Linked DNA regions of Homo sapiens. The protein of the gene in region 1 interacts with the protein of each later gene in a pairwise test. Each region holds a gene or a part of one and is shown on either strand. Other genes may lie near its edges. The genes, in order: C16orf54 and CLDN11.

What was found.
Region 2: the proteins of C16orf54 (region 1) and CLDN11 interact in binary tests that used the Homo sapiens proteins (3 or more experiments, as listed by UniProt).

The regions. Positions count from the first base shown.
Region 1 is NC_000016.10:29,737,785-29,753,156, reverse strand, and holds C16orf54 (transmembrane protein C16orf54), read left to right. Parts: upstream 1-7,166; 5' UTR 7,167-7,246; exon of another isoform or gene 7,247-7,430; coding exon of another isoform or gene 7,431-7,460; intron 7,461-7,533; exon of another isoform or gene 7,534-7,673; coding exon of another isoform or gene 7,674-7,730; intron 7,731-7,771; exon of another isoform or gene 7,772-7,910; intron 7,911-8,205; coding exon 8,206-8,880; 3' UTR 8,881-9,218; coding exon of another isoform or gene 9,219-9,267; 3' UTR 9,268-10,694; downstream 10,695-15,372.
Region 2 is NC_000003.12:170,407,142-170,422,855, reverse strand, and holds the start of CLDN11 (claudin-11), read right to left. Parts: upstream 3,989-15,714; 5' UTR 3,790-3,988; coding exon 3,564-3,789; intron 1,631-3,563; exon of another isoform or gene 1,519-1,630; intron 1-1,518. UniProt on the Homo sapiens protein: Plays a major role in tight junction-specific obliteration of the intercellular space, through calcium-independent cell-adhesion activity.

The DNA.
Region 1 (15,372 bases):
AACAGAGCAAGACTCCGTCTCAAAAAAAAAAAAAAATAGCCAGGCATGGTGGTGCGCACCTGTAATCCCAGCTACTCAGGAGGCTGAGGCAGGAGAATCATTTGAACCCAGGAGGTGGAGGTTGCAGTGAGCTGAGATCAAGCCACTGCCCTCCAGCCTGGGCAACAGAGTGAGACTCTGTCTAAAAACAAATTTTTTTAAATTAATTAAAAGAAAAAGTGACGCAGGGCATGGTGGCTCATGCCTGTAATCCCAGCACTTTGGGAGGCTGAAGGGGGTGGATCACCAGGTCAGGAGTTTGAGACCAACATAGTGAAACCCCATCTCTACTAAAAATACAAAAATTAGCCAGGCATGGTGGCACACACCTGTAATCCTAGCTACTCGGGAGGCTGAGGCAGGAGAATTGCTTGAACCTGGGAGGCGGAGGTTGCAGTGAGCTGAGATCATGCCACTGCACTCCAGCCTGGGTGACAGAGTGAGACTCCGTCTCAAAAAAAAAAAAAAAAAAAAAAAAAGAAAAAGAAAAAGTGTTGCTAGGCACAGTAGCTCACGCCTGTAATATCAGCACTTTGAGAGGCTGAGGCGGATGGATCATGAGGTCAGGAGTTTGAGACCAGCCCAGCCAACATGGTGAAACTCTGTCTAAAGATAAAAAAAAAAAAAAAAAAAATAGCCGGGCGTGGTGGTGCATGCCTGTAATCCCAGCCACTCGGGAGGCTGATGCAGGAGAATTACTTGAACCTGGGAGGCGGAGGTTGCAGTGAGCCGAGATTGTGCCATTGCCCTCCAGCCTGGGCAACAGGGCAAGACTCCGTCTCAAAAAAAAAAGAAAAAAGAAAAAGAAAAAGTGTGATTATTGCGATTACAGATCTGAGCCACCACGCCCAGCCTGTGTAATTTTTGATAAGTAATACTAATTTAATATTTTTCATTTAGTAAAAACATCTATATCGGCCGGGCATGGTGGTTTAGTAATCGCAGCACTTTGGGAGGCCGACGTGGGTGGATCACCTGAGGTCAGGAGTTCAAGACTAGCCTGGACAACATAGTGAAACCCCGTCTCTACTAAAAATACAAAAATTAGCCAGGTGTGGTGGCAGGAGCCTGTAGTCCCAGCTACTCGGGGGGCTGAGGCAGGAGAATCGCTTGAACCTGGAGGCAGAGGTTGCAGTGAGCCGAGACTACACTACTGCACTCCAGCCTAGGAGACAGAGCGAGATTCCACCTCAAAAAAAAAAAAAAAAAAAACTGTATCTCCTGAGTTATCAAGAAATTACTCATATGTTTAAGCTTCTTACTTAGGTGAATACCTGATTGTCACAGGCTATAAAAATGATTAACAGGGAAGTAACTTGAAATAATGACTATCCTTGCCTAATATCTCAGTTTTCATAAATAATCTAGGGAAACTGTTAAAAATAAAGTATGTAATGGATAATTTATTATAAATAAATTTTTCATGTAATTTTAAATCTTCTATTATGTTCTATTAAATTAACTATTATTCATTAGATGTGTGTATTATTTCCAAGTAAGAAGAAATAACTGAAACAAATTGCTGAACATAAATGTTTTTGGCTGGCTTCTTAAATTTTATAGAATGACTAAATATACTTGGTCTTTTTTTGTTGTTGAGACAGTGTCTTGCTTTGTTTCCCAGGCTGGAGTGTAGTGGTACACCCATAGCTCACTGCAGCCTTGAACTCCTGAGCTCAAGTGATCCTCCCCTCTCAGCCTCCCAAGTAACTAAGACTACAAGCACATGCCATCATGCCTGGCTAATTTTTTGATTTTTTGTAGAAATGGGAGTCTTGCTATGTTACCCAGGCTGGTCTCAAACTCTTGCCCTCAAGCAATCCTCCTGCTTCAGTCTCCCAAAATTGTGGGATTACAAACATGAGCCACCTTGCCTGGCCTTAAACTTTTTTTTTTTTTTTTTGAGACAGAGTCTCGCTCTGTTGTCCAGGGTGGAGTGCAGTGGCATGATCACAGCTTACTGCAACCTCTTCCTCCTGGGTTCAAGCAATTCTCCTGCCTCAGCCTCCTGAGTAGCTGGGATTACAGGCATGTGTCACCACGCCCAGCTAATTTTTTTTTTTTTCCCCAGACAGAGTCTTGCCCTGTCACCCAGGCTGGAGTGCAGTGGCATGATCCCGGCCCACTACAACCTCCACCTCCTGGGTTCAAGCGATTCTCCTGCCTCAGCCTCTCAAGTAGCTGGGACTACAGGCACCTGCCACCAAACCCGGCTAATTTTTGTATTTCTAGTAGAGACAGGGTTTCACCATGTTGGCCAAGTTGGTGTCGAACTCCTGACCTCATGATCCGCCTGCTTTGGCCTCCCAAAGTGCTGGAATTACAGGTGTGAGTCACCTCACCCGGCCTTTTTTGGTATGTTTAGTAGAGACGGGGTTTCGCCATGTTGGTCAGGCTGGCCTCAAACTCCCGACCTTAGGTGATCCACCTGTCTTGGCCTCCCAAAGTGCTGGGATTACAGGCATGAACCATTGTGTAGGGCCTAAACTTGTACGTGATGAAAGAATCAAAACAGCCAGTGATATCTTAGTAAGAAAAAACCATGTCTGATCTTTCCAGTTTTTAATAATGTTAACTCTTCTAAAAGTTTGTTTAAAAAGATTGATTAAAAGAGCACATACAAGTTTTCAGGTTTTGTTTATTTTGATTTTTTTTTTTTTTACAATAAATCATTGTTTGATTGTAGGGAAACACACATAACTGCCAGGCACGGTGGTACACACCTGTAATCCCAGCTACTTGGATGGCTGAAGCAGAAGAATATCTTGAACCCGGGAGGCGGAGGTTGCAGTGAGCCAAGATTGCGTCACCGCACTCCAGCCTGGGCAACAGAGACAGACTCCGTCTCAAAAGAAAAAAAGAAATACATAACATAAAATAACATCAAAGTTACTATCATTTTTCTATATTGACCTCTAGAACAGCCAGAAAGAACATCTTAGTTATTTTTAAGCGTGTTGTTCGCTGGCACTAACTTCAGGTTTGATTTTAAGGCTTGTAATCTGGTAAAATTCTAGCCTCCTCAGGTTTCTGCGAGTGTCCTGAGCCTTAGCTTCCCCCTGTAACTGCCAAAGGGGTTCACCTTGCCCGCTGCCTACACATAGCCGATTCATCAAGACAGCAAAATTGCAATAAAGAGTAATTCACACAGAGCCAGCTGTGCAGGAGACCGGAGTTTTTTTTTTTTTTTTTTTTTTTTTTTTGACGGTTTTGCTCTTTTTGCCCAGGCTGGAGTACAATGGTGCCACCTCGGCTCACTGCAACCTCCGCCTCCAGGGTTTAAGTGATTCTCCTGCCTCAGCCTCCTGAGTAGCTGGGATTACAGGCACTTGCCACCACACCTGGCTAATTTTGTATTTTTAGTAGAGACAGTGTTTTCTCCATGTTGGTCACGCTGGTCTCAAACTCCCAACCTAAGGTGATCCACCGGCCTTGGCCTCCCAAATTGCTGAAATTACAGGCGTGAGCCACTGTGTCCAGCCAGGAGTTTTATTATTACTCAAATCAGTCTCCCTGAGCATTCGGGAAACAGAGGGTTTTTTTGTTTGTTTTTGTTTTGTTTTTTTGAGATGGAGTCTTGCTCTGTCGCCCAGGCTTGAGGGCAGTGGCGCAATCTCGGCTCACTGCAAGCTCCGCCTCCCAGGTTCATGCCATTCTCCCGCCTCAGCCTCCCAAGTAGCTGGGAGTAGCTGGGACTAGCTGGGACTACAGGCATCCGCCAACACGCCTAATAAATTTTTTGTATTTTTAGTAGAGATGGGGTTTCACCGTGTTAGCCAGGATGGTCTCGATCTCCTTGTGTCCAGAATTGGCGGGTTCTTGGTCTCACTGACTTCAAGAATGAAGCTGCGGACCCTCACGGTGAGTGTTTCAGTTCTTAAAGGCGGCATGTCCGGAGTTTGTTCCTTCTGATGTTCGGACGTGTTCCGAGTTTCTTCCTTCTGGTGGGTTCGTGGTCTCGCTGGCCTCTGGCGTGAAGCTGCAGACCTTCACGATGTTACAGCTCATAAAGGCAGTGCAGACCCAGGATAAGCAGCAGCAAGATTTATTGGAAAGATCAAAAGAACAAAGCTTCCTATGTGGAAGGGTACGCCGAGTTGCCACTGCTGGCTCTGGCAGCCTGCTTTTATTGCCTTATCTGGCCCCACCCACATCCTGCTGATTGGCCCATTTTACAGAGAGCCAACTGGTCTGTTTTATAGAGAGCTGATTGGTCCATTTTGACAGGGTGCTGATTGGTGTGTTTACAAACCTTGAGCTAGACACAGAGTGCTGATTGGTGTATTTACAATCCCTTAGCTAGACATAAAGGTTCTCCAAGTGCCCACTAGACTCAAGAGCCCAGCTGGCTTCACCTAGTGGACCTAGCACCTGGGCTGCAGGTGGAGCTGCCCACCAATCCTGTGCCTGCACTCCTCAGCCCTTGGGCGGTTGATGGGACCAGGCCCCGCAGAGCAGGGGGCGGTGCAGGAGCCCAGGCAGGGGGACGCTTGGGCATGGCGGGCTGCAGGTCCCAAGCCCTGCCCCGTGGGGAGGCAGCTGAGGCCTGCGAGAATTCAAGTGCACCTGTGGGCTGGCACTGCTGGGGGACCTGGCGCACCCTCTGCAGCTGCTGGTCTGGGTGCTAAGCCCCTCACTGCCTGGGGCCAATGGCGCCAGCCGGCCTCTCTGAGTGCGGGGCCCACCGAGCCCACGCCCACCCGGAACTCATGCTGGCCCTCGAGCGTGGCCCGCAGCCCCAGTTCCCGTCCGCGCCTCTCCCTCCACACCTCTGGCAAGCAGAGGGAGCGGGCTCCCGCCTCGGCCAGCCCAGAGAGGGGCTCCCACAGTGCAGCGGCGGGCTGAAGGGCTCCTCAAGCGCAGGGAGAGTTGGCGTGGAGGCCGAGGAGGCGCCCAGAGTGAGTGAGGGCTGCCAGCACGCTGTCACCTCTCATCCTGACCTTGTGATCTGCCTGTCTGGTCCTCCCAAAGTGCTGGGATCTGGGAGTGCAGATTGGTCAGAGATGAAATCATCAGGAGTCAGAGCTGTCTTCTTGCAGAGTCAGTTCTGGGTGGGGGCCACAAGATCAGATGAGCCAGTTTATTGATCTGGGTGGTGCCAGCTGATCCATCAAGTGCAGGGTCTGCAAAATATCTCAAGCACTGATGTTAGGAGCAGTTTAGGGAGGGTCAGAATCTTGTAGCCTCCAGCTGCATGACTCCTAAACCATAATTTCTAATCCTATGGCTAGTGTTAGTCTAGTCCCCAGGCAAGAAGGTCTGCTTTGGGAAAGGGCTGTTACTGTCTTTGTTTAAACTATAAACTACAAACTAAGTTTCTCCCAAAGTTAGTTCAGCCTACGCCCAGGAATAAACAAAGACAGCTTGGAGGTTAGAAGCAAGGTGGAGTCAGTTAAGTTAGATCTCTTTCTTTGCAAAGGCGGTTTCCCCCGGACTCTCCATCTCCAGCTCCTCCCAGCAGGGCTCAAAACCACCAGGATGGGGCAGTCTGACGGAGACTGTCTTTTCATTCATTTATTTATTTAATTTATTTATTTTGAGACAGAGTCTCGCTCTGTTGCCCAGGCTGGAGTGGAATGGCACGATCTCGGCTCACTGCACCGGGTTCAAGCGATTCTCCTGCCTCAGCCTCCTGAGTAGTTGGGGTCATAGGCGTGCGGCACCACGCCCGGCTAATTTTTGTATTTTTAGTAGAGACGGGGTTTTGCCATGTTGGCCAGGCTGCTCCCAAACTCCTGACCTCAGGTGATCCACCCGCCTCGGTCTCCCAAAGTGCTGGGATTACAGGCATGAGCCACCTCGCCCAGCCCAGGGATTTCTATCTATTCTTCCACCACCCTGGCCACTACATGCTCACCCACACATACATTGGTCATGCGACTTTGGTCATGAAATCTCTTTTCTTTAAGCCTTACTTTTGTCATCTGTGGATGAGTCAAACTAGAGAATCTCAGAAAGTCACCTGGACTCCAGAGCCTGATGACATCTTGTCACACTCTGCTCCAGGCTCCTCCCACCCTCAGCAGCAGGAAAGAGGGACAGACATGAGGATGGTCAGGGTTTTGGAAACAGGCCCACGCCTGTTTTTATACCCTGGACTCCTCTCAGAGGCTTGACATTTTTGTTACCCAAGCCTCACCTCACTGATATTTTCCAACCAAAATGGGGGCTAAATGGTCTGAAGAGAGAGAGACTTATGTTAATTAAAAGTATGAGGCAGGGGCCAGTGTGGTAGCTCACACCTGTAATCCCAGCACTTTGGGAGGCTGAGGCAGGAGGATCTCTTGAGGCCAGGAGCTTGAGACCAGCCTGGGCAACATAGCAAGAGCCCATCTCTACCAGAAAAAAAAAAAAAAGGTGTGAAGCAAGCTGGCCAAGCAGGGGGTGCCTGTGGGGGCTGCATGGCAGGAGCAGATCTGGGGAGGCACCGTGGATAAGACAAGGCAGGATGGGGTGGGGCATCCTCCCAGGAGGAACGGGGGAGGCACCATGGTTCTCTGGGAATGTACGGGCTAAAGTCCCAGTGTCCTATTTCTTTTTCTTTTCTTTTCTTTTCTTTTTTTTTAAGACGGAGTCTCACTCTGTTGCCCAGGCTGGAGTGTGGTGGCACGATCTCAGCTCACTGCAACCTCCGAGTCCCGGGTTCAAGCGATTCTCCCTGCCTCAGCCGCCTGAGCAGCTGAGATTACAAGTGCCCGTCACCATGCCCAGCTAATTTTTGTATTTTTCAGTAGAGATGGGGTTTCGCCATGTTGGCAGGCTGGTCTCGAACTCCTGACCTCAGGTGACTTGCCCACCTTGACCTCCCAAAATGCTGGGATTACAGGGGTGAGCCACTGTGCCTGGCCCCGGCGTCCTCTTTCTCAGCTTTTCGGTGAATGTTCTGGGGCTCAGGGCCTGGCTATGGGGTGACACTAAGTTCAACAGAACCATTGCCCATTCCAGCCCCACCTTACCCCAGGAAAAGCCTCCTCACCGCAGTGACCACATCCCCTTGGGTTGCTTTGGAAACAAACACTCCCCAGGGGCAGACGAGTTGGGGCACAGTTGCCCAGCAACAGGCGGTGCCCTCCCTTCCGCCTTCATCCGAGGCCGGGCCTCTACGTCTGAGAGGCGGACCGCCCTGCACCCTCCAAGCCTGCACCTCTTAGTCCAGCACCAGGAAGAGTGGCTCTAGGAGGGAGAGGAGCCCAGGGACTGACCCAAGGTGAGTTGAGGGGTGCAGGAGGCCCCCTGCAGATGGAGGATGTGGGGGACAGAGAGGTGTGCAGAGACAAACGAGAGATAGAGACAGGCCAGAGCCTGGGCAAAGCTGGGGAGCCCAGGAGGGGTGCAGAGGCGCCTCCGGAGGCCTGGCCCGGCCCGGCCCGGCAGCAGATTCCGTGGAGCCTATGAGAGCAAGATCAAGTCCGAGGAGAATGGTGAGGGGCGAAGGAGCCTCAAGGGGCCAGCGGAGGTGCTGGCGGCAGGCGGTGGGGGAGACACACGCAGGGGAGCCAGTGGGAGGGGAGGTTCTCATTTCTTCACCCACCACTTCCTCTCTAGGTCTGAGCAAGACTTGAGGGGGCCGAGTGGGGAGGAAAGAAGCCCTTGAGACCTTTCTTGTCTGAGGCACCCTGGGGTCTGGGAGGGAAATGGGGATTCTGGAAAGGCCTGGAGAGCCAGGCAGGAGGGCCTGGCTGTGCCCCGAGGTAGGCTGCCTGTCCTCCCACCCCACCTGGCTCACGCTTACCCTTTCTGGTCCCTCTTGCTTCTCTGTCTCTCCAGAATGTTCTTTTTCATTTTTGAGAAAGGGTCTTGCTCTATTGCCCAGGCTGGAGGACAGTGGTGCAATCTGGGGTCACTGCAGCTTCAAACTCCTGGGCTCAAGTAATCCTCCCACCTCAGCTTCCTGTGTAGCTGGGACTACAGGTGTGAGCCACCACACCCAGCTAGTTTTTAAATTATTTTTAGAGATGAGGTTTCACTGTGTGTCCAGGCTGGTCTTGAACTCCTGGGCTCAAGTGATCCTCCCGCCTCGACCTCTCAAAGTGCTGGGATTCCAGGCATGAGCCCCCATGCCCAGCCCTTCTCCCAGGCTTTCCTGGACACCTGCTGCCTCTCTCTCATCTTGGTTGTGCCCCCTCTGCCTCATTTACTTCCTCTTCTCACCCCTGTGTCTCTCAGATGCCGTTGACTCCAGAGCCGCCCTCTGGGCGCGTGGAGGGGCCCCCCGCATGGGAAGCAGCCCCATGGCCCTCACTGCCCTGTGGGCCCTGCATCCCCATCATGCTGGTCCTGGCCACCCTGGCTGCGCTCTTCATCCTCACCACCGCTGTGTTGGCTGAACGCCTGTTCCGCCGTGCTCTCCGCCCAGACCCCAGCCACCGTGCACCCACCCTGGTGTGGCGCCCAGGAGGAGAGCTGTGGATTGAGCCCATGGGCACCGCCCGAGAGCGCTCTGAGGACTGGTATGGCTCTGCGGTCCCCCTGCTGACAGATCGGGCCCCTGAGCCTCCCACCCAGGTGGGCACTTTGGAGGCCCGAGCAACAGCCCCACCTGCCCCCTCAGCCCCAAATTCTGCTCCCAGCAACTTGGGCCCCCAGACCGTACTGGAGGTCCCAGCCCGGAGCACCTTCTGGGGGCCCCAGCCCTGGGAGGGGAGGCCCCCCGCCACAGGCCTGGTGAGCTGGGCTGAACCCGAGCAGAGGCCAGAGGCCAGCGTCCAGTTTGGGAGCCCCCAGGCCAGGAGGCAGCGGCCAGGGAGCCCGGATCCTGAGTGGGGCCTCCAGCCACGGGTCACCTTGGAGCAGATCTCAGCTTTCTGGAAGCGTGAAGGCCGGACCAGTGTGGGGTTCTGAATCCCCAGGGTTCCCCAGAGATCCCCGAGGCAGGCCTTGCCTCAGTGGGACCGGGGACCCCAGGATCCAGCATTAGGATTGAGACTGCCCCAGCGAAGATGCCCTTCCCAGGCTCCTTCCACCTGGAGTCCCCCTCCCCGGGTCTGGGTGGTGGCCAGGCTATGTGGACTAGGGGAAGCCCAGCAGTGCCTCTGCTCAGCTACCTGGGCTGTGGCTCAGAGACCTGGGGGTGGAGCCAATGCCAGGCCAGAAGCCTTCAAGATCGCATCCAGATGAAGAACCCAAGGTACTAGATAGTCAGGAAATGGCATCGACCAGCCACCTCCACCTTCTTTCAGTGTTTACCGAAGCCACCAATACCAAAGAGAACGGGTCCTGCGGTGCTGAACAGCCTCGGTGTGGCGATGACAGCTGGCAGGAGATGACAGGAATCCAGTTTCCCAGAGCCACAAATCCTGTTCTCCTTGGCCACTCACCCACTGTGAGGTCCTCTAGGAAAATACACAAAGAGAGGACCAGACCAGGCAGAGGAACATTTTGTTTCATATGAACTGTGGCTTTGACCCCCAAACTGCAAGGAGGAACTTGCTGGGCCAAGCTGCAGCGGCGCTGTCTTGCTGGAGTGGGGACCTAGAGTCAGAGAAAACCCACAGGCTCCTCTGCCCATTCTCCTCCATCTGCACACGTCTCAGCCTCGGACCCTCACCACTCCATGGTGAGGAAGGCCATGGCCAGGGGAAACTGAGTTTCATCCAATGTGGAGAGGAGCGTTGTCCTAGAGCAGGGCAACTCCCAAACTGTGACCTCTGATCATCGTCCCTTCCAGCTTGCTGGAGTGTCCAGAGAGACAGATTTGCCACAAGCTAGGCTTACTTATAATGCTCCACCCTACAGAAATGGGACCCCAAGTACCCAATCTTCCCTTTAGGAGAGGCAGGCAGGTGGGTGAGCAGCAGATGTAGTTTCCATTTCCCTGGGGGTTTAATTTTCCAAACTTTGTCTTTTTTTTTTTTTTTTTTTTTTTTTTGAGACAGAATCTCAACTCTGTCACCCAGACTGGAGTGCAGTGGCACAATCTCAACTCACTACAGCCTCGAACTCCTAGGCTCAAGCGATCCTCCCACCTCAACCTCTAGAATAGCTGGGACTGCAGGTGCATACCACCACGCCCAGCTAATTTTTGTATTTTTTTTGTAGAGACACGGTCTCACCATACTGCCTGGGCAGGTTTCCAACTCCTGGGCTCAAGTGATCCAGCAGCCTTAGCCTCCCAAAATGCTGGGATTACAGGTATGAGCACTGCACCCGGCCACTTTTTTTTGTTTTTGAAACAGGGTCTCACTCTGTTGCCCAGGCTGGACTACAGTGGCACAATCTCAGCTCACTGCGGCCTTGAACTCCTGGGCTTAAGTGATCCTCCCACCTCAGTCTCCCTAGTAGGTGGAACTACAGGCATGTACCACCACACCTGGCTATTTTTTTTTTTTAGAGACAGGGTCTTGCTATGTTGCCCAGGCTGGTCTTTAATTCCTGGGCTCGAGAGAGCCACTCATCCCCATCTCTCAGAGTGTTGGGATTACAGCCATGAGCCACCATGCCCGGCCAAACTTCAGCCTTGAATATTAGTGATTTTGCCATATTAGTTTACCATCTGTACAATTATTTGCTTTATATTTTTCTTTAAATTGGCTCATTATTCACTTAATGAAATTATTGCAACAGGAATCTTTTGTATCACTTCTGTAAATGGAAAACCAGTCTCATTTGCCATCAATAGAAGGTAAAACATGAAAATAAATACAATGTAAACAAAATTGTTAAGATCTAAATTCTGTTCCCTGCTGGAAGCATTGACCTAAAACTCTGCTCTTTGTTTTTGTTGTTGTTTTTGAGACGGAGTCTCGCTCTGTTGCCCAGGCTGCAGTGTGATGGCGCGATCTCCGCTCACTGCAACCTCCGCCTCTGGGTTTAAGCGATTCTCCTGCCTCAGCTTCCCAAGTAGCTGGGATTACAGGCGCCTGCCACCATGCCTGGCTAATTTTTGTATTTTTAGTAGAGACAGGGTTTTACCATGCTGGCCAGGCTGGTCTCGAACTCCTGACCTCATGATCTGCCCGCTTCAGCCTCCCAAAGTGCTGGGATTACAGGTGTGAGCCACCGCGCCCGGCACTGCTCTTTGTTAACAAGAAAAGGGAATGTTGATCTGCAAGTCAGAAAGTGTTAGATACTCTAGCACCACAATGAGACCTTCTGGAAGTGCCAAGGCAGACAGACAGCCCCGCACAGGGGGCGGGATGCTGTGTTGTTTAATGCTGTCCACGAAGTTCACCCACAGCCAGGAAACACTCACTTCTCCCTGCACAGTGGGCTAAGGAGCACTTGGAGCCTCTCATCCAATCCCTTGACCTCCCCTCTGATTTTTGGGATGTTGGAAGTTGACAGAGCAGCCAGAAACCCCAGGCAGAGGGACCGAGAGCCTAGTCCAGTCTCTTCTCCCAGGTGTAGTCACTGGCCAGCATCCTAAGCACTGTTTCTGAGCTGGGCACTGGGAGGGGAGGAATAAGACCTGGGCCCTGCCCTCAAGGAGCTCACAGTCTCTCTAGCGGCAGAGTAGGGAACAAAGGTAGGGGTGAGCTAAGATATGGACACAAAACTGACACCAGGGAGAGACCAGGGCCCTGTCCCATCTCTATCACTCATGAGCTGGGTAATGACATTCCTTATCATCACCATCAGTTGACAGCACTGGGTTGTGGGGACTCTGCCCACGAGGAGTGAACAGACCTGAGAGAAACAGAAGATACAGGCAGGTGTTCAGAGGTCAGATGCTTCCATGCCATGGGTTCAGGAAAGGCACTGCAGTGTGGAAGAAATGCAGGGACAAGGCCCCAGTTCATGATCTGCCTCCATCACCTTATTCACTTAGAGACTTCAGAAAACAGAGTTTTGTATTATGGGGCCTCATGTGCTTTTTTCATGTACAAAAAGACAGCTGAAAGTTGAACAAGATGTTCTATTGGGACTTTTCTAGCTGTGACATTTGAGAATGAGTGAAGGGGGCCAGCCCCTCCACACCTGTGGGTATTTCTTGTCAGGTGGGGCAAGAGACTGAGAAAAGAAATAAGATGCAGAGACAAAGTATAGAGAGAGAACAGTGGGCCTAGGGGACCAGCGCTCAGCATACGGAGGACCTGTGCGGGCACTGGTCTCTGAGTTCCCTTAGTATTTATTGATCACTATCTCTACTATCTCAGTGAGGCGGATATGGCAGGACTATAGGGTAATGGTAGGGAGAGGGTCAGCAGGAAAACGTGAGCAAAGGTCTCTGTGTCATAAATAAGTTTAAGGAAACGTGCTGTGCCTCGATGTGCACGTAGGTCAGATTTATGTTTGACTTTACACAAACATCTCAGAGCAGTAAAGAGCAGTATTGCCGCCAGCATGTCTCACCTCCAGCCATAAGGTAGTTTTCTCCTATCTCAGTAAATAGAATGTATGATCGGGCCTTACACCGAGACATTCCGTTCCCAGGGACGAGCAGGACACAGATGCCTTCCTCTTATCTCAACGGCAAAGAGGCCTTCCTCTTTCACTAATCCTCCTCAGCACAGACCCTTTACGGTGTTGGGCTGGGGGACAGTCAGGTCTTCCCCTTCCCACAAGGCCATATCTCAGGCTGTCTCAGTGGGGAGAAACCTTGGACAATACCCAGGCTTTCTTGGGCAGAGGTCCCTGCAGCCTTCCGCAGTGCATTCTGTCCCTAGATACTCGATAATGGAGAATGGCAATGACTTTTACCAGGCATATTGCCTGCAAACACATTTTTAACAAGGTGCATCCTGCACAGCCCTAAATCCATTAAACCTTGAGTCAACACAGCACATGTTTCTGCGAGCACAGGGTTGGGACTAGGGTTACAGATTAACAGCATCTCAAGGCAGAATTTTTCTTAGTACAGAACAAAATGGAGTTTCTTATGTCTTCTTCTTTCTACAGAGACACAGTAACAGTCAGATCTCTCTTTCTTTCCCCCACAGTGAGTAAAATGAAAGACGGTTGGATGGATGGATGGATGGATGGATGGATAAATAAATGAATGGATGGAAGACTAGATGGATGGATGAATGGATGGATGGATGGATGAATAAATGGATGGATGGATAGATGGACAGACGGACAGATGGATGGATGAATAGATGGATGGATGGATGGATGGATGGGAGAATGGATAGGTGAAGAGAATGGATGTGTGGATGAGTGGATGTATAGATAAATGGATGCATTGATACATGGATTTCTGCATGCGATCTTCCTGAGGCAGAGTCTAACTTGCTATCTGCAGAGTCATCTTTATATTTCCAGACCCAGAACATGGTCTAAAACACTATAGGAGCCTAATGAATGGGGAATGAATAAGTTCATAGATTAACAGACACATTCATTTTACTGTTTCTTCTTTTTACTTTAAACCTCTCCTGCTCACTTTTTTTTTTAGACGCATTCATTGACCGGAATCCCACTCATTTTTAACACCATCTTATTTCTTTCTCATATTGATGTCTTCTTTTATATCTTTAGAAATTTAAACCACACTTGCTGTATGGTTCTTTGCCAAATAATGCTATTCTCTGGAGTTCTGGAGTTGGAGCTAATCCTGCTATATGCTGTGTCTGCTTACTGTCATTCATGAAGATTGTTTCCTCTTATGTTTTGTAATTTTGAGCTGTGAATTCAGCTTCAGCAGGGTGTTATCAGTGGGAATGCACATGCCCACCAAGGTTCAAAGAGGTTTCACATCTGCTTCTGCCAAGAGCTCTTCATGGGTGTTACCAACCCTGGACTACATTGTTATTATTATTATTATTATTATTTATTATTATTATTATTTTGAGACAGAGTCTTGCTCTGTTGCACAGGCTGGAGTGCAGTGGTGCGATCTCAGCTCACTGCAACCTCCACCTCCCAGGGTCAAGCAACCTCCACCTCCCGAGGTCTCCTGCCTCAGCCTCCCGAGTATCTAGGATTACAGGCTCCTGCCAACATGCCCGGCTAATTTTTGTATTTTTAGTAGATACGTAGTTTCACCATGTTGGCCAGGCTGGTCTTGAAATCCTAACCTCAGGTGATCCTCCCACCTCAGCCTCCCAAAGTGCTGGGATTATAGGCACGAGCTACCACACCTGGCCTGGACTATATTATTTGTTGACATTTGGGCTTCCCAGACCATGCAGATGATGTAAACTTGAACCCCAAGTCCAAGTGAGGCCAAGCCTTTGGTTATGAATTCTCAAAAGAGACCATTTATTGTCACCAAATCTCAGAGTGAAACAGACAAGGTCCTTTTATGCTCCCTGAACTGGAGGCAGATTTTTTTCCTAGTTTACTCTTTCACCAAGGATGTCACCCCTTAAGGGTACAAGCTTTCTATTAGTGTTTATGTTTTCAGTTCCCCAGACAAGGCCTTATCTCCAATCTCTAGGTAGGTGTAAAGCCCTAGGCCCTTCAATGCCAAGATCACAGCCACCCAGCAAGTTGCACAGCTCTAGTGTTCAGTTTCCTCTTCGTGCCTCCTGGGGATTTCCCTTTCTTTTTTGCAACTAAGCTGCATGTTTTAAAGGATGTTTGTTTGGTTTTATGCAGCGCTTCTAGATGCATAGTGGTGAGGACATGCTTGTCAGGTTATTCCATTCACACTATCACCCAAAAGGCTATTTCCCCATATAAATAAGTTGACATCTCTCCCACCTTAAAACAACCAGCCAACCAACAACTCTTTTTTTTTTTTTTTCTTTTTTCTGAGATAGGGTCTCACTCTGTCACCCAGGCTGGAGTGCAGTGGTGCAGTCACGGCTCACTGCAGCCTCAATCTCCTGGGCTCAAGCCATCTTTCTGCCTTGGCCTCCCAAGTACCTGGGGTTACAGGCACATGCCACCAGATCTAACTAGTATTTTGACTTTTGTAGGCATAGGGTCTCACCATGTTGCCCAGGCTGGTCTCAAACTCCTAGCCTTAAGTGATCCTCCCTCCTCAGCCTCCCAAAGTGCAGGGATTACAGGGGTGAGTCATGTCCAGCTCCAACAACTCATTCTCTACCCCTCACACACAGCACGACTTCTCACCTCCTTCACAGCCAAACGTCTGGGAAGAGCCGTCTGTCCTAGCAGTCTACACTTTCTCATCTTCCCCTCCCTCTGCAACTGGTTGCAGGCTTCCATGGGCTTCCAGCACTCTACAGAAACGACTGCCATCAAAATCATGACCTGCTGTTTTAATCAAAGGACACTTTCAAGCCTCCTGCAGACAGCACTGGACACTTCTGGAAATGTTCTCTCCCCATGGCTCTGTGGCTTTACACACACCTGCTTTCCCTCCCCGCTACCCAGCCGTGCTCTCTGACTCTCTTTGCTGGCGGCATGCCTTCTCAAAGGTCAGTCCTGGGCTGCTTTTCCCCTCCCTCTGCACTCCTTCTGGGAAATTTCACCTAGGCCCAA
Region 2 (15,714 bases), on another chromosome or scaffold:
CTGAAATCTCCCAAGAATCATTCTGTGAGGGCCTCTATTGGTTCCAGTCTGCTATTGATAGCTCTACCTGTGTGACCTTGGGCAAGTTACTTAACCATGATGTCTTATTTTCCACATCTATAAAGTAACAACAGGCCAGGCATGGTGGCTCACACCTCTAATCCCAGCACTTTGGGAGGCCAAGGCAGGTGGATCTTCTGAGGTCAGGAGTTCAAGATCAGCCTGGCCAACAGGGCGAAACCCCATCTCTACTAAAAATACAAAAATTAGCCTGGTGTGGTGGTGTGAGCCTGTAGTCCCAGCTACTTGGGGAGGCTGAGGCAGCAGAATCGCTTGAACCTGAGAGGGGGAGGTTGCAGTGAGCTGAGATCGAGCCACTGCACTCCAGCCCAGGTGACAGAGCGAGACTCTTTCTCAAAATAAATAAATAAATAAACAAACAAAGTATTGATAATAATATAATAGTACCTACATCTCTGTAATAGAATTCTACTGAAGATTACATTAGTTAATTTATTTAGTGCTTAAAACAGTGCCTATACCAAATCCTCAAAAAAGGTTAGTTGTTATCATTGGTGTTCTTTGTCTGTCTCAGTGCAGCGCTTTCATCTTCAGGTGTCCTAGGTGATTTTCTCCTAACCATGTGCTTTCATTCACATTGGCTGTGGCCCTAACCCAGACTAAACTAAGACTCAGGCTTCCTCTCTTTGCTGTCTCCCCAGAGGCTGCTGTCCTCATGGATCCTGCCCCTAAATTGTTGGACCCCATCTCCTGCCTCACCCACAGTGCCCTGGGCATCCTTCCCCAACTGTCCATCATTGCTTAAAAGGCATCTCTCCAGCCCTCAGGGTTCCTGGAGGGCAGACACCTGCCTTGGTATTCACGGAGTTAACACAGTGCCCACAACAGATCATGGAAACAATTGCGAATCAAGGAATAAGAGAACTGAAAAATAGAAGAGTAGAGCAAAACTACATGAACTTTATCCTGTCAAGTAAAATGCCAAGTAAAAACTGTATTAAGAAACAGATTACAATATGTGTCACATTTATTTAGAATAAATCTGACAAGATACTGGGAGAATTTCACAGACAAATTTGTTTCACTTTCAAATGTAATGTTTCTCATTAAAACTCTCCCTCCTCTTAAAAAAGGTGGGGGGGGTCACATTTATTACCCTCCCTTTTTTGCTCAGAAGGAACTAGTACTAGTGGCCTGGGTGAGGCAGAGTTCATAGCAAAGCCAGGAATCTAGCCGACATCTGCCTCACACACCACGACCCTCACGTGCAAAAAGGCCTAACTTCAACGCTGTCTCTTAGCAAGGAACGTTTTGCCAGAATTCGGACTTCACAAGGGCCCTCTTCCAGCACTGCCCATCTCAGCTCCTTCAGAATTAAAGATAATCAGTCAAGTGTCTACTGACTTGAAGATCTCCAGAAAGGAGCTCCAGGAAGTCTGAGGCCCATCCCCTGACCCAGCCGTCCGCCTCTGCGGCTTGTAGAGAGCCAGTACTCACACAAAGCAGGCAGTCAACTGGCAATGCAGGTTCTGAAATCCATGGCACTGGCTGTCCACATGCTACAGTGCCAAGGCCATGTCCGGACACCAAAAGATAGGGACAGAGGACTGTTCCTGCCTCCACCCAAAGTATGAGGGAGGGGGAAGGCAGGAAGGACTAGCGCCGCCCCCCACCCCCCCCCCACCCCCAGAGTATGCACTCCCCTCTGGAGGACAGCCTTTGTTCTCTGAAAACAAACCACTTGGCACTGAATGCTCAGTAAAGTTAATTTCAGGAGAAGAAAACAAAGTTAATTTTATGCTTCAAAGATCCCTACAAATACCATGCCCAGCTTTTAATAAAATACTATAGGTACCATTCATGAAGCATCTACTATCTCAAAGGAGATTACATTTCTTATCTCATTTAATCCTCAAATAATCGTGAAAGATGGGTGGTTGATCTGATTTTAACTTTTAAAAGAAGACAACCGTGGTTCACTGAGGCTAGCAATTTGTCCCCCCTCACCCAGATTGTGAGTCCTGGATGCCGGAGGCTGGCCCGGGTCTGCCAACACCAGCATTAGCCAAAGCTGAGTCTAGATCTGCGTTCGTTGACCTCTGGCCTTCTGAAAGTTCAAAATGAAGGAAAGGATAGCGTAAGGCAAACCAGGCAAGCACTGCCCGCAGCTATTGTGTGCCAGAGGCCATGCCAGGTCCAGAAGAGGAAGCAAAGAGAATAACAGGACGCCATCTCTATCTTCAAGGAATTTAAAACGTAGTGGGAGAACTTCACTCACGAACAATCAACAAAAAACAAGATAAAATGTGCCTTTGTGAGGATAAGAGCCAAGTACTAGGCAGCAAGGAGAAAGGAGGGATTCAGATTCCGACTGCGAGGACCGGAAATAGGGCGTGCTTGGAGGAGGCTTAAGGGGCGAGCACAGTCTTATCTGACTGGCGGCTTCAGGGACAGGTTTCTCCCCATCTTGAGGAAACCGGGAAAATCCTTTAAGTGAGCACAATCCACGAAGGCTGGGGGACAGAAGCCCACCTTGTAGGGACATGCCTTGGGGGTAGAGCAGAGATTCCAGCAGAAAACCAAGGGGGTGCCCGCGACCTCGCCATTGCCCAACCCATTGGTTTAAATCTGAATTGAGGCTGTCGCCCAAAATGTTTCCACAGGACACATGTGAAAATGTGGCCCCTGGCCGGCGCTAGGCTGTCAATTTTTACCTCCCCTTCCCAATCTGAGACACGCTGGAGGGGTGGCGGCGAGCGACCCTCGGCGGCGCGCTCCGTATCTCCCCAGTGGAGTCCGCCCTCCGAGGAGCGCCCGCTCGTCCCTATCCAACCCAGCGGCGCGGAGCGGGAGCCGGCGTCACCGCAGCCCCGCAGTCTGACGCGCCCACAGCAGGGGCGGGGGTAGCGGGGGCAGCGGAGATGGCCCTGGGCACGTGCGGGAATCAACGTGACATTTCCCAAACCAGGCAGCCCAGAGAGCCCTGGACGTGAATTGCTCAGCGGCTGCGCGGACGGAGCTAGGAGGGCTCTAACCTGGCCGGGGGCGCTTCGCCCATCCCATGAGGACCGAGAAACTCAGCCTGAGCCGGTTCGATTCTCCTGTCAGCTTGTGTTACACGCTCCTTCTCACCTCTGCGGGCGGAACCTAACGCGAAGGCTCGGCGCCCCGGGGGAGGCCGGGCGGGAGCGGGAAGCACTTCGGGAAGCGGACGGTGGAAGGATGCGGGCTGGGACCGCAGTAATTAACACGGACTCAGTTCCTATTAGGTGTTCCGGTTTGTTCATTCTCAAAGGGACCCGGCCAGTGTTACCACCGGCCACATTGCCACTATTATCTCAAATTCCAGATAAGAATACTGCGGCCTAGAGAAGTTAAGTTCGGGGCTGCCTAATTCTTTTACAACAAGGTGGGACTAGGGATGTCAAAAACGTACCCAAAGGTCTTCAAGCCCCCAAAATGTCTCTGTGACGCCGTCTAATATCCCGCTCTCTACCCAGAGGATAAGGATTTGGGAGCCGCCGCCAAGCTCGGGTCCTTACCCGGCAGGATGAGGATGTCCACCAGGGGCTTGCAGTGGTACAGCCCCGTGGCCATGACGCAGTCGGCCCACAGCCCCTTGGAGCCCAGCTCATCCAGCTTGCGGCAGGTGGGGATGGTGTAGCCGCAGGTCACCACCCAGTCATTGGTGGAGGTGGTCACGATGACCCCGATCCAGCCCACGAAGCTCGTGACGAAGCCCACCACCTGCAGGCACGTGGCCACCATGGTGGCCGCCAGGATGTCCCCGTGCCTCGCCCCTCACGGCTGTGCCTGGGCCTGGGCTGGACAGTGCCTGCCCAGGTACGTCTCCCACGCTCGCGAGCCGCTGGAGGGCGACGGCCCGAGGCGGGACACTGGAGGTGGAGGTGGGCGCCGGAGGCTGCGAGCTCAGCGGCGAAGGGCGCACGGCGGGGACAGCAGCGCTGCTGGGCAGCGCGCCCCCGCCCCCTCTTTAAGCCCCGCGGCTCCGGCCGGCGAGCACCAATCGGCGGCAGCCCCGGGGCGCGCCGGCCAATCGCGGGGCGGGGCCGGGAGGGAAGCGTGAAGGGGAGCAGAGTAACCCCAGGGGGGCCATTGGGCCGCCCCACCCCGTCCGCAGCGCAGTCCGGCGATGCAAAGTAAAACAATTCCATCCAGGTCCAGAGAAACGGAGAGCGCAAAGAGGGCGTGCGTTTGTCGAGAGTTCTGTTTTCCTGCGACTGGTTTCTCTTCTTATAGCCCCTCTCTCATCTCAGTCTCTGGGTGTCCATTCCGCTCCGACCCTCCTCAGCTCCTCCCTGCTCGCTCCTTCTTCCCTGCTGCGAGCACTCCAAGGGCGCTCGGTACAGTCCCCCGACGACCCAGGATTGTGACAGACTGAAAAGTGCAGTAGGGACAAACGCGAGGCATTCAGTACACACAGTTACTAGAAGAAAGAAAACGATGCTTTTCAGTGGTTGAACATCATCAGCGGCAAACGTGGCCATAATAATCAACAATAGCAACTCACATTTATCGAGCTGTGTTATATATTATGCAGATGCATTTTACATGCATTAGCTCATTTAATCCTCATAACAGCCTTTGAGGTAGGAACAATTGTCAATGACACATACTAGGCCGGGAGTGGTGGCTCACACCTGTAATCCCAGAACTTTGGGAGGCCAAGGTGGGCGGATCACCTAAGGTCAGGAGTTCGAGACCAGCCTGACCAACATGGTGAAACTCCATCTCTACAGAAAATACAAAAATGAGCCGGGCATGGTGGCGCATGCCTGTAACCCCAGCTGCTTGGGAGGCTGAGGCAGGAGAATAACTTGAAGGAGGTTGCAGTGCGCCAAGATCGTGCCACTGCACTCCAGCCTGGGCAACTGAGTGAGACAACGTCTCAAAAGCAAACAACAACAACAACAACAAATTACACGCACTAGCCATAGAGAAACAGCACAAGAAGGTTGAGTTGCCCAAGTTCACGCAGCTAGGAAGGGGTAGATACCATGGGCCCATCTCATCCCTTTCACGAACTGTTTCTAGGAAACTGTCCTGATCAGTCTGAAAATTCCTAAGGGGTTCATGTGTCCCATTTTAGACGCATTAAAAGCTACAGCAGACTTCTCTGGCTCACTGTAAATAAATTAATATCTGTACCCCACTGAGAAAACTGCCTAGCCCAGAATGAGCGCTCTGATAGTGTAAAGCTATCATCATCACCATCAACATCATTAAGCCACCATGCATACAAATAGGCCGCATTATTTGCACCTTTTTATTCAGATAGGGAAGTCTTCCTTGAGCTGCATTTACATTCAACAGTTTTCACTCCCTTTGAAACATTTGGCTTATCTTATTATCTCCTTCTATCCATTCCCTTGGACCACTGCCTCCTCACCAATCATGAGACTTAAAGGTGTGAGGATTTCAGAAAGCACAAAAACTTCCTGCTCAGCGTTCTAAAATCTAAGATACTAACCATAAATCATAGGTACTGAGCTTTCCCAAAGCCAGCCCTAATGCTGGTTATCAGTGCAATCACCATGTCTTCTAGGAAAGCCTGGACTTGAGGAGACAATTACATTTCCCTGGAGACCCCAAGGAAATCAAGTGCACACACAGAAATGGCTCTTGTAATTGATAGCAGAGTGTCAAGTACAAGGGTCACAGTAATCACCCAGGAAGCACAGTGACTAAGAACACAGTCCAACTGCCCAAGTTCAAATCTTGGCTCCATCACTTTCTGGCTGTGAGACCAAGTTACTTTATCATTCTTGGCCTCCTTTTCTCATTTGTAAAATAAGGATGAAAACTGTACCTACCTCATAGACTTTTTTTTTTATTCTGTGAGCTATTAGGTTGGTGCAAAGTATTAAACATAACGGCAAAAACCACGATTACTTTTATACCAACCTAGTAATATATATGCAGAACTTAAAGTAACATTGGTACAAAGTAAGTATTCAGAAACCCCTGGCTAATGTGATGCTTCAGAACGTTGTTGTTGTTGTTGCCGTTGTTGTTGTTTTGAGACAAGATCTGTGTCACCCTGTCTACAGTTCAGTGGCGTGATCACAGCTCATTGTAGCCTTGAACCCCGGGACTCAAGTGATCCTCCCACCTCAGCCTCCTGAGTAGCTAGGACTACAGGCATGAGTCACTATGCCCAGCTAATCTTTCTTATTATTAGTAGAGAGAAGGTCTCACTATGTTGCCCAAGCTGGTCTTGAACTCCTGCGCTCAAGCAATTCACCTGCCTTGGCCTCCCAAAGTGCTGGGATTATAATAGGCATGAGCCAGCAGGCTTGGCCTGATTTTGCATTCTTATGTATCCTCCCTATATTCGTATGAGTTTGATTTGTGGAAACTATTCCATAGGAGTATGTTCTGAGTGAGCCATTGTGTTTGGGGGACGTTTCATCACCAGGGTCTATGGACTGAATGTTTTCAGATATTTCCTTATAACACTTTTTTAAAATGGCTTTTGTGCTAAATACAACATAAAACATAAAACCCAAGCAACATCAACTTCTTGTAAAAGCACTCATGGAATCTGCACTCTTATGCCTCCATTAGAATTTGACATTCGAACCATGAAACTTCAACCAATCAGAATATAATAATGCCCAGATCATCCACAGGTCACACACACATAGTGTTTGTAAAGCCAGATTTCAGAACTCAGGCACTAAATGGTAAAAAAAAAAAAAAAAAAAAAAAAAAATTGCCAAGTTGTTAAGATTGCTGTCTTGGACTGGGACCTCCTAGGTTCACATTCTGTCTTCACCACTTGAGCTGGCCCTTCACCTACGTGACTCTCAGGTTCTTCATGTACAAAGTGAGATAGTAAATGCCCCCTTAGGGCATGGTGAGGATCAAGTGAGATAATTTATATGAAGTACTCAGCATAGTGCCCAGCACTGCTGGACACTCATTCACATTAGACACTGTTAGAATGATTTATAGGAAGCGTAGATTAATTGGAAGTGGGAGTTCCCTTTGGTAGAGATACAAGCTAAATAATTAGGGTATTATTATTATCCAATGAAAGCAATTGTAAAGCCAGTGTCTAATCCATTCCAGCATAGATGTACAAAAGGCCACTTGAGGAGGCCACAAGATGTAACCTGTTTGAATTCATTAGCCCAAGGTAAAGAGAGGGCTTGTCCCTTCAAAAGGAAGGCAGGAAGCCATGGAAGCAAAGAGAACTGGGGGCCAAGAGGCAGAGAGACGCAATGGGAATCCTTGACTATTTTCAGAGTCTGTGGCTCACAGACTCTGAGGATGCGGTGCCATTAGCAAGGCTCTGTAGGGTGGGGAAGTCCCTCAAGCTATCTTAGCTGAGACTTTTGCTAAAATCATCCACATTGCGGCCAGGCACAGTGGCTCACCCCTGTAATCCCATCACTTTGGGAGACCAAGGCGGGTGGATAACGAGGTCAGGAGTTCGAGACCAGTCTGGCCAACATGGTGAAACCCCGTCTCGGGGTTTCAAAATTATACAAAAATTAGCTGGGCGTGGTGGCAGGTGCCTGTAATCCCAGCTACTCAAGAGGCTGAGGCAGGAGAATCTCTTGAACCTGGGAGGCGGAGGTTGCAGTGAGCCGAGATCGTGCCATTGCACTCCAGCCTGGGTGACAAGAGCAAGACTCCATATCAAATATATATATATATATATATATACAAAATTAGCCAGGCATGGTGGCACATGCCTGTAATCCCAGCTACTCAGGAGGCTGAGGCAGGAGAATCGCTTGAACCCGGGAGGCGGAGGTTGCAGTGAGCCGAGATCATGCCATTGCACTCCAGCCTGGGCAACAAGAGCAAACTCTGTCTCAAAAAAAAAAAAAATATCATCCACATTGCTTGGCTGTGGCTCTCCTCCCAAACCCTCTTTGTGATTAAGACCTGACTTCCCATGCAGCACAACTTACTAAACTGATATTCTGGGTCTGTCACAGTCTCAGGTACCCTTTAGTTGTAAGAGTCAGTCTCTCAAGGTCTAATCACCCTCAGATAAACGTCAATCGTTGGTCCCCAGACCATCCAGACAAAGGTCTTCTCAGTTAATTTTTTCTCAGCAAACTCTGCCATGCCATCTTTTCACATTTCCACAGTACATATCAGAACTAGGAAGGTAGAGCTGAGACCTGATTTCAGGTCTTCTAACCCTAAGTCCAATGTTTTTTTCCATTATAAAAAAAAATATAAGATGAGTCATATGCTCTGTGGCTTGAGCGTAAGTTCGTTCCTTCATCTTACTCTTATTCAAAGGTATTTGAAGGGGAGGATTAGGGGATTAGGGCCAGTAAGGCCCTAAAACCCAGATGTGAACTAAACAAAGGAAAAGGCCTGGTTAACTGTTCTTCTACCATTTACACCCAAAAATAGTCAATCAAACTAAAATGCTATTCAGATACAGCACGAATGCATACCACAAAGCAGATGTGACTGCTGGCAAGCATCAAAACCCCACATTGAGAGCAAAGTTTGGGCCAACGAGTAGGCTCTTAGCGCCTGCTAGTGGTTATCTTTTATCATTGCATGGCTGGTAAAAAACTGAAGGGAGCTGTAACTTGTAGAGAAACATGATTAACCTCAGCTTTGCACATTCCAAATGAGGGATAATTAAACCCAACTGGAATGTGCATTTCTCTGTGGAAGTTTTCTTCATATATTTTAAAAAGATGATTCACCTCTTTAGAAAACCAAACATGAAAACACAGGACATATATGAAATTACTTAAGCAAGATTACTCAATTAAAAAATCAAGTACTTCTACTAGGCCCTTATTTACTTATTTATTTATTTTGTTAGAGACAGAGTCTTGCTGTCCCCCTGGAGGCTGAAGTGTGGCGGCACAAACATAGCTCACTGTAACCTCGAACTCTGGGCCCAAGTGATTCTCCCACCTCAGCCTCCTGAATAGCTAGGACTATAGGTGCACACCACCACACCTGGCTAATTTTTTTATTGTTGTATTTTTTATAGAGATGGGGGAGGGGTCTCTGTATTGCCCAGGCTGGTCTCAAACTCTTGGCCTCAAAAGATACCCCCATCTCAGCTCCCCATCACATCCGGCCTGGGGACCTCTTTTTAAGGGATAAATTCCTCTGGTGGATTTTAAATATTTGATGATACACACATACACACATTTTTAGAAATACTGTAGAACAAATTCATAGCATAAAAAGAATATCAAACATAGGCTTTAAAAATGAAATGACCTGTAAGTTTCAGGATTTTGTCTATTTTGTTCATCACCGAAACTGTTGAATGTGGCACAGTACGTGGCATACACAAAGGCACTCAATACATACCTGTTGAATGGAGCTGACTGAAGGGTTGAAAGGGAGAGATTGAATTTGCAAGCCTACAAGTTCCACTAGGATGAGAACCTGAAGACACCATGCAGAAGAAATCAGGAGGTGGTGATTGGAGCTGGTCTAGGGAGTGGGCAAGAGGCAGAGTACAGCTCTTTGTGGTCTCGGGTACCCACCTGCCGCCCACAGGAAAGTGAAGCCTTCAGCAGTAGAAGGGATGTGTACTGCTCAGGTCTCAAACAGAAAAGTCTCTAATTACCTAGACACGCTGGCCTCAATGCATATACTTCCAGCAGAGAAGAGTGGCACCTTCACAATTCACTTCCACCTGGAGATTCAAATTCAGCTACGAGAGGGGAAAAAATTCCTTTTCAGGAAATTTCTCCAACAATCACTGTGGAAAACACACCAGGTTCTCTAGAACAGACAACAGGGCTCCAGGTGCTCCCCCATATCTTGCCCTTTCTTCACAGTGCAACTAGAATATCATTCCTTCAGAAGCCATTTCATCCCAAATTTCCCTTCCTTCAGCTTGTAGATAGAGTAAAATAATGAAAAACTTGTACCTGGAGTTTTAGGCTTGAATCCTCTCAGAGTGTTTTCTCTCTTCAAGTAGCAATTCTATTCATCCACTTCTCTGCCAAGAGTCTCAGACTGCATTAAATGATATCCTGTCTAATTCAACCTATGAGATCATAGTTCCTGAAGAAGAGCAAAAGTCCTTATTTTTAGCCCAAATTCAACTAGCGATTACATTTTCAGAAAACATAGTAGTAATAGAGTATATAAGTGCTGAAGTGAAAAATAAGGAAATAATCTAACTAAAAAGCCACATCTTTAAATTCTCTATCTTAATAATTAAGGGGCAGGGCACGGTGGCTCACGCCTGTAATCCTAGCACTTTGGGAGGCCAAGGCAGGCAGGTCACCTGAGGTCAGGAGTTCGAGACCAGCCTGGCCAACATGGTGAAACCCTGTCTCTACTAAAAATACAAAAAATAGCTCAGTGTGATGGTGGGTGCCTGTAATCCCAGCTACTTGGGAGGCTGAGGCACCAGAATCATTTGAATCCAGGAGGCAGAGGTTGCAGTGAGCTAAGATCACGCCACTGCACTCCACCCTGGGCAACAGAGTGAGACTCTGGCTCCCAATAATAATAATAATAATAAAGAACAGGTGTTTGTCGGCCAGGCGCAGTGGTTCACACCTGTAATCCTAGCACTTTGGGAGGCTGAGGCGGGCGAATCATGAGGTCAGGAGTTCAAGACCAGCCTGGCCAACATGGTGAAACCCTGTCTCTACTAAAAATACAAAAAAATAGCTGGGCGTAGTGGGGAGCGCCTGTAAACCCAGCTACTCAGGAAGCTGAGGCAGGAGAATCACTTGAATCCGGGAGGCGGAGGTTGCAGTGAGCTGAGATCGCGCCACTGCATTCCGGCCCAGGTGACAGAGTAAAACTCTGTCTCAAAAAAAAAAAAAAAAAAAAAAAAAAAGAACAGGTGTTTGCATTTAGCTACCTAGGACATGGAAACACAGAGCAATTTGTTGACTTTTAAGTCTTTTACTGAAAACATGAATAATAAAATGATCAAAACAATCATGTGTCCTCTTATTATTCATTCAATATATAATAAAAAATCACCAATCATGTTATCAATGCTACACTGTTCCATAAAAAACTGTCTACAAGAGAAGCCTGTGTCTCAATGACACCAATTGTTTTCTTTTTGTTTCTTATGTAAATAAAGATTCTATTTTATTAAATTATCCTGAATGAGGACATTGTTGGGCACCAAGATCCAAAGCAGACAACAGAGTAGAGTAGTAAGGGGAATAGGGTGGAATCCTGGCTCCATCACTAACTAGTTGTGTGATCTCGAGCAGGCTGTTTAACTTTTTTGTTTAGTAACTGCATTTAATAACTAATATTCTATTTCCTCACCAGAAAAATTGTGTTAACAACGGTAACTGGCTGGGCACAGTAGCTCATGTCTGTAATCCCAGCGCTTTGGGAGGCTGAGACAGGAAGATTGCTTGATGCCAGGAGTTTCAGACCAGCCTCAGCAATCTGTCTCTACAAAAATAAAAATAGCTACTAATAGTCCTTGCTACTGAGGAGGCTAAGGCAGAAGGATCACTTGAGCCCACAAGTTGGAGGTTACAACGTGCTGTGATCGCATCACTGCGCCCCATGCTGGACAACAGATGGAGACTCTGTCTCAAAACAAAAAACAACAGTAACTATTTCATAATAGCTGTTCGAATGTTAGAATTAAATGTGTTCCTAAATGTACAATTATTGGAGTAGTGTCTAATACATAGTAAGTACTCAATAACTATTGGCTTCTATACCAAAAAATAATCAGTTGGTTGTAAACCTGTTTGTTTGTTTTGTGACAGGGTCTCCTTCTGTAGCCCAGGCTGGAGTGCAGTGGCGGGCTATCACAGCTCACTGCAGCCTTGACACTCCCTGCCCACCAAGCTCAAGTGATCCTCCCACCTCATCCTCTTGAGCAGCTATGGCCATATGTGCCCACAACCATGGCCGGCTAATTTTTTTATCATTTGTAGAGACAGGGTCTTACTATGTGGTCTCGAACTCCTGGCTTCAACTGATCTGTAAACACAATCTTAACCTTCATATTACAGAGCAGTGAAACTCAAAATGTTTCAAAATCTGGTAACATATGAATAAGAATTTGAAAGGAAAGAAAATGTGATCTCACCTACAAGTACAGCATATGGCCCTTTAAACAGCTAAAATAATTCTAGCCATCCCTTCTCTTCGCTGTCAAGATTTAACAACTGCATACAATTCCTTTTTCATTCTGATGATGGTATTTTTGCAGAAATTAGCTTGGCCACTGGAGGGCTCTTGCAGTCTCTCATTAGTTCTAGATAAATGATTTGATAAAAATTAACTTTACTGACAGACAAAGGATGAAGTTTACAAAATACCAATAGCACGGCTGACATGCCCCATTTCAAAAACAATTTGCAATATATAGCAAAAGGATTTAAAATATGTACATTCTTTGATCCAGCTTCTAAAAATGTATCTAATAAACTAATTATAAAGTATTCAATTGTTTTTATTTACATTTCAATTAACTGTTCAATTTAGAAGTAAATTATATGTTATAAAATATGAATCTTGGCCATGCACTGTGGCTCATACCTGTAATTCCAGTACTTTGGGAGGCCGAGGCAGGCAGATCACTTGAGGCCAGGAGTTCAAGACCAGCCTAGGCAACGTAGAGAAACCGTGTCTACTAAAAATACAAAAATTAGCTGGGTGTGGTAGCGTGGGCCTGTAGCCCCAGATAGTCCAGAGACTGAGGCAGAGAATCGCTTGAACCCAGGAGGCGGAGGTTGCAGTGAGCAGAGATCGCACCACTGCACTCCAGCCTGGGCAAGAGAGCAAGATCATGTCTCAAAAAAAATAAATAAAATAAAACATGAATTTGAAAATACAAATTGCTAAATGTACTTCCAAAATATCTGTACAGTTGGAGATTGGTTTTTAAAATATATATAAATATATTTGAAAAATATACACCGAAATGTTAACAACTTTTTTGGGTAGTGAGATTGAGAGTTCTTCCTCTCTTTTGTTCTTTAGGCATTTTCCAGTTCTCCATAATGAACGTGAATTCTTTTGATCATGAGTAAAAAAAAGTTTTAAATTTTAAAATTTAAAATATTTTAAGTATTTTTAAATATTCAGTATTATATAAGGATCTATAAAGAGTACAGGCATACCTCAGAGATAATGTGGGTTCAGTTCCAGATCACCACAATAAAGCAAATATCACAGCAAGGCAAGTCATGCAAATTATTTGGCTTCCCAGTACATGCAAAAGTTATGTTTACGCTATACTGTAATCTATTAAGTGTAGAATAGCAGTAAGACTTTTAAAAATGTACATACCAGCCAGGCACGGTGGCTCATGCCTGTAATCCCAGCACTTTGGGAGGCCGAGGCAGGCCTATCACAATGTCAGGAGTTCAAGACCAGCCTGGCCAATATGGTGAAACTCTGTCTCTGCTAAAAATATGAAAATTAGCTGGGCGTGGTGGCACACGCCTGTAGTCCCAGCTGCTTAGGAGGCTGAGGCAGGAGAATTGCTTGAACCCGGGAGGTGGAGCTTGCAGTGAGCAGAGATCGTGACACTGCACTCCAGCCTGAGTGACAGAGCGAGACTCCATCTCAAAAAAAAAGAAAAGAAAAGAAAGAGGAAGAAAAATGTATATTCCTTAATTTTAAAATACTTTATTGCTTAAAAAAATGCTAATAATGATATGAACCTTCAGCAAGTCAGAATCTTTTTGGTGGTGCAGGGTCTTGCCTCTATGTTGATGTCTGCTGACTGATAAGGGTGGTGGTTGCTGAAGGTTGAGGTGGCTGTGGCAATTTCTTTTTTTCTTTCTTTTTTTTTTTTTTTTTGAGACGGAGTTACACTCTTGTTGCCCAGGCTGGAGTGCAGTGGTGCCATCTTGGCTCACCACAACCTCCGCCTCCTGGGTTCAAGCAATTCTCCTGCCTCAGCCTCCCAAGTAGCTGGGATTACAGGCATGCACCACCACGCATGGCTAATTTTGTATTTTTAGAGGAGACGGGGTTTCTCCATGTTGGTCAGGCTGGTCTCAAACTCCCGACCTCAGGTGATTTGCCTGCCTTGGCCTCCCAAAGTGTTGGGATTACGGGCGTGAGCCACTGCAACCAGCCGGCAATTTCTTAAAATAAGAAAACAATGCCTGTAATCCCAGCACTTTAGGAGGCCAAGGCAGGCTGATCACCTGAGGTTGGGAGTTCGAGACTAGCCTGGCCAACATGGCAAAACCCTGTCTCTACTAAAAATACAAGAATTAGCCAGCGTGGTGGTGGGTGCCTGTAATCCCAGCTACTCGAGAGGCTGAGGCAAGAGGGGAATCACTTAAGCCTGGGAGGTGGAGGTTGCAGTAAGCCAAGATTGTACCACTGCACTCCAACCTGGATGACAAAGTGAGACTCTATCTCAAAAAAAAAAAAAAATTTCTCTGTAGCATGCGGTGCTATTTGATAGCATTTTACCTACAGTAAAACTTCTTTCAATGATATTCCCAGCATCTTCACCAGGAGTATATTCCATCTCAAGAAACCACTTTCTTTGTTCATCCATAAGAAGCAACTCTGCATCTGTCCAAATTTTATCCTGTGATTGCAGCAATTCAGTCACATCTAATTCTAGTTCTTTTACTATTTTCACCACATCTGTGGTGACTACCTCCACTAAGGTTTTGAATCCCTCAAAGTCATGCAGGAGGGTTGGACTCTACTTCTTAACTTGTAAGTGTTGATATTTTGACCTCCTCCCATGAATCATGGGTGTTCTTAACGTCATCTAAAATGATGAATCCTTTCCAGAGGTTTTGTGTTTATTTTGCCCAGATCCAACAGAGGAATCACTATCTATAGCAGCTATAACCTTACGAAATCTTTTTCTTAAATAATAAAACTTGAGGCCAGGCGCGGTGGCTCATGCCTGTAATCCCAGCACTTTGGGAGGCCAAGGCAGGTGGATCACGAGGTCAGGTGTTCAAGACCAGCCTGACCAATATGGTGAAACCCTGTCTCCACTAAAAATACAAAAATTAGCTGGGCGTGGTGGTACATGCCTATAATCCCAGATACTCAGGAGACTGAAGCAGAATAATTGCTTGAATCTGGGAGGCATAGGTTGCAGTGAGCCGAGATCACGCCACTGCACTCCAGCCTGGGTGACAGAGCGAGATGCCACCTCAAAAAATAATAATAATAAAACTTGAAAATCAGAATGACTCCTTGATTCATGGACTTCAGAATGTATGTTGTGTAAGCAGGCATGAAAACAACATTAATCTCCTTGTACATCTCCATCAGAGCTCTTGGGTGACCAGATACATTGTCAATGAGTAGTGATATTTTGAAAGAAACATTGTTTTCTGAGCAGTAAGTCTCAACACTGGGCCTAAAATATTTTGTAAATCATGCTGTAAACAGATGTGCTGTCATCCAGGCTTTGTTGTAGCATTATAGAGCACAGGCACAGTAGATTTAGCATAGTTCTCAAGGATCCCGGGATTTTCAGAATGGTAAATAAGCATTGACTTCAACATAAAGTCAGCAGCTGCATTCGCCCCTAAAGGGAGTCAGGCTCTCTTTTGAAGCTTTGAAACCAGGCATTGACTTCTCTCTAGCAATAAAAGTCCTAGATGGCATCTTCTTCTTCAGATAAGATAAGGTTGTTTCATCTATATTGAAAATCGGTTGTTTGGTATAGTCAACTTTATCAATGATCATAGCTGGATCTTCTGGATAACTTGCTGCAGTTTCTGC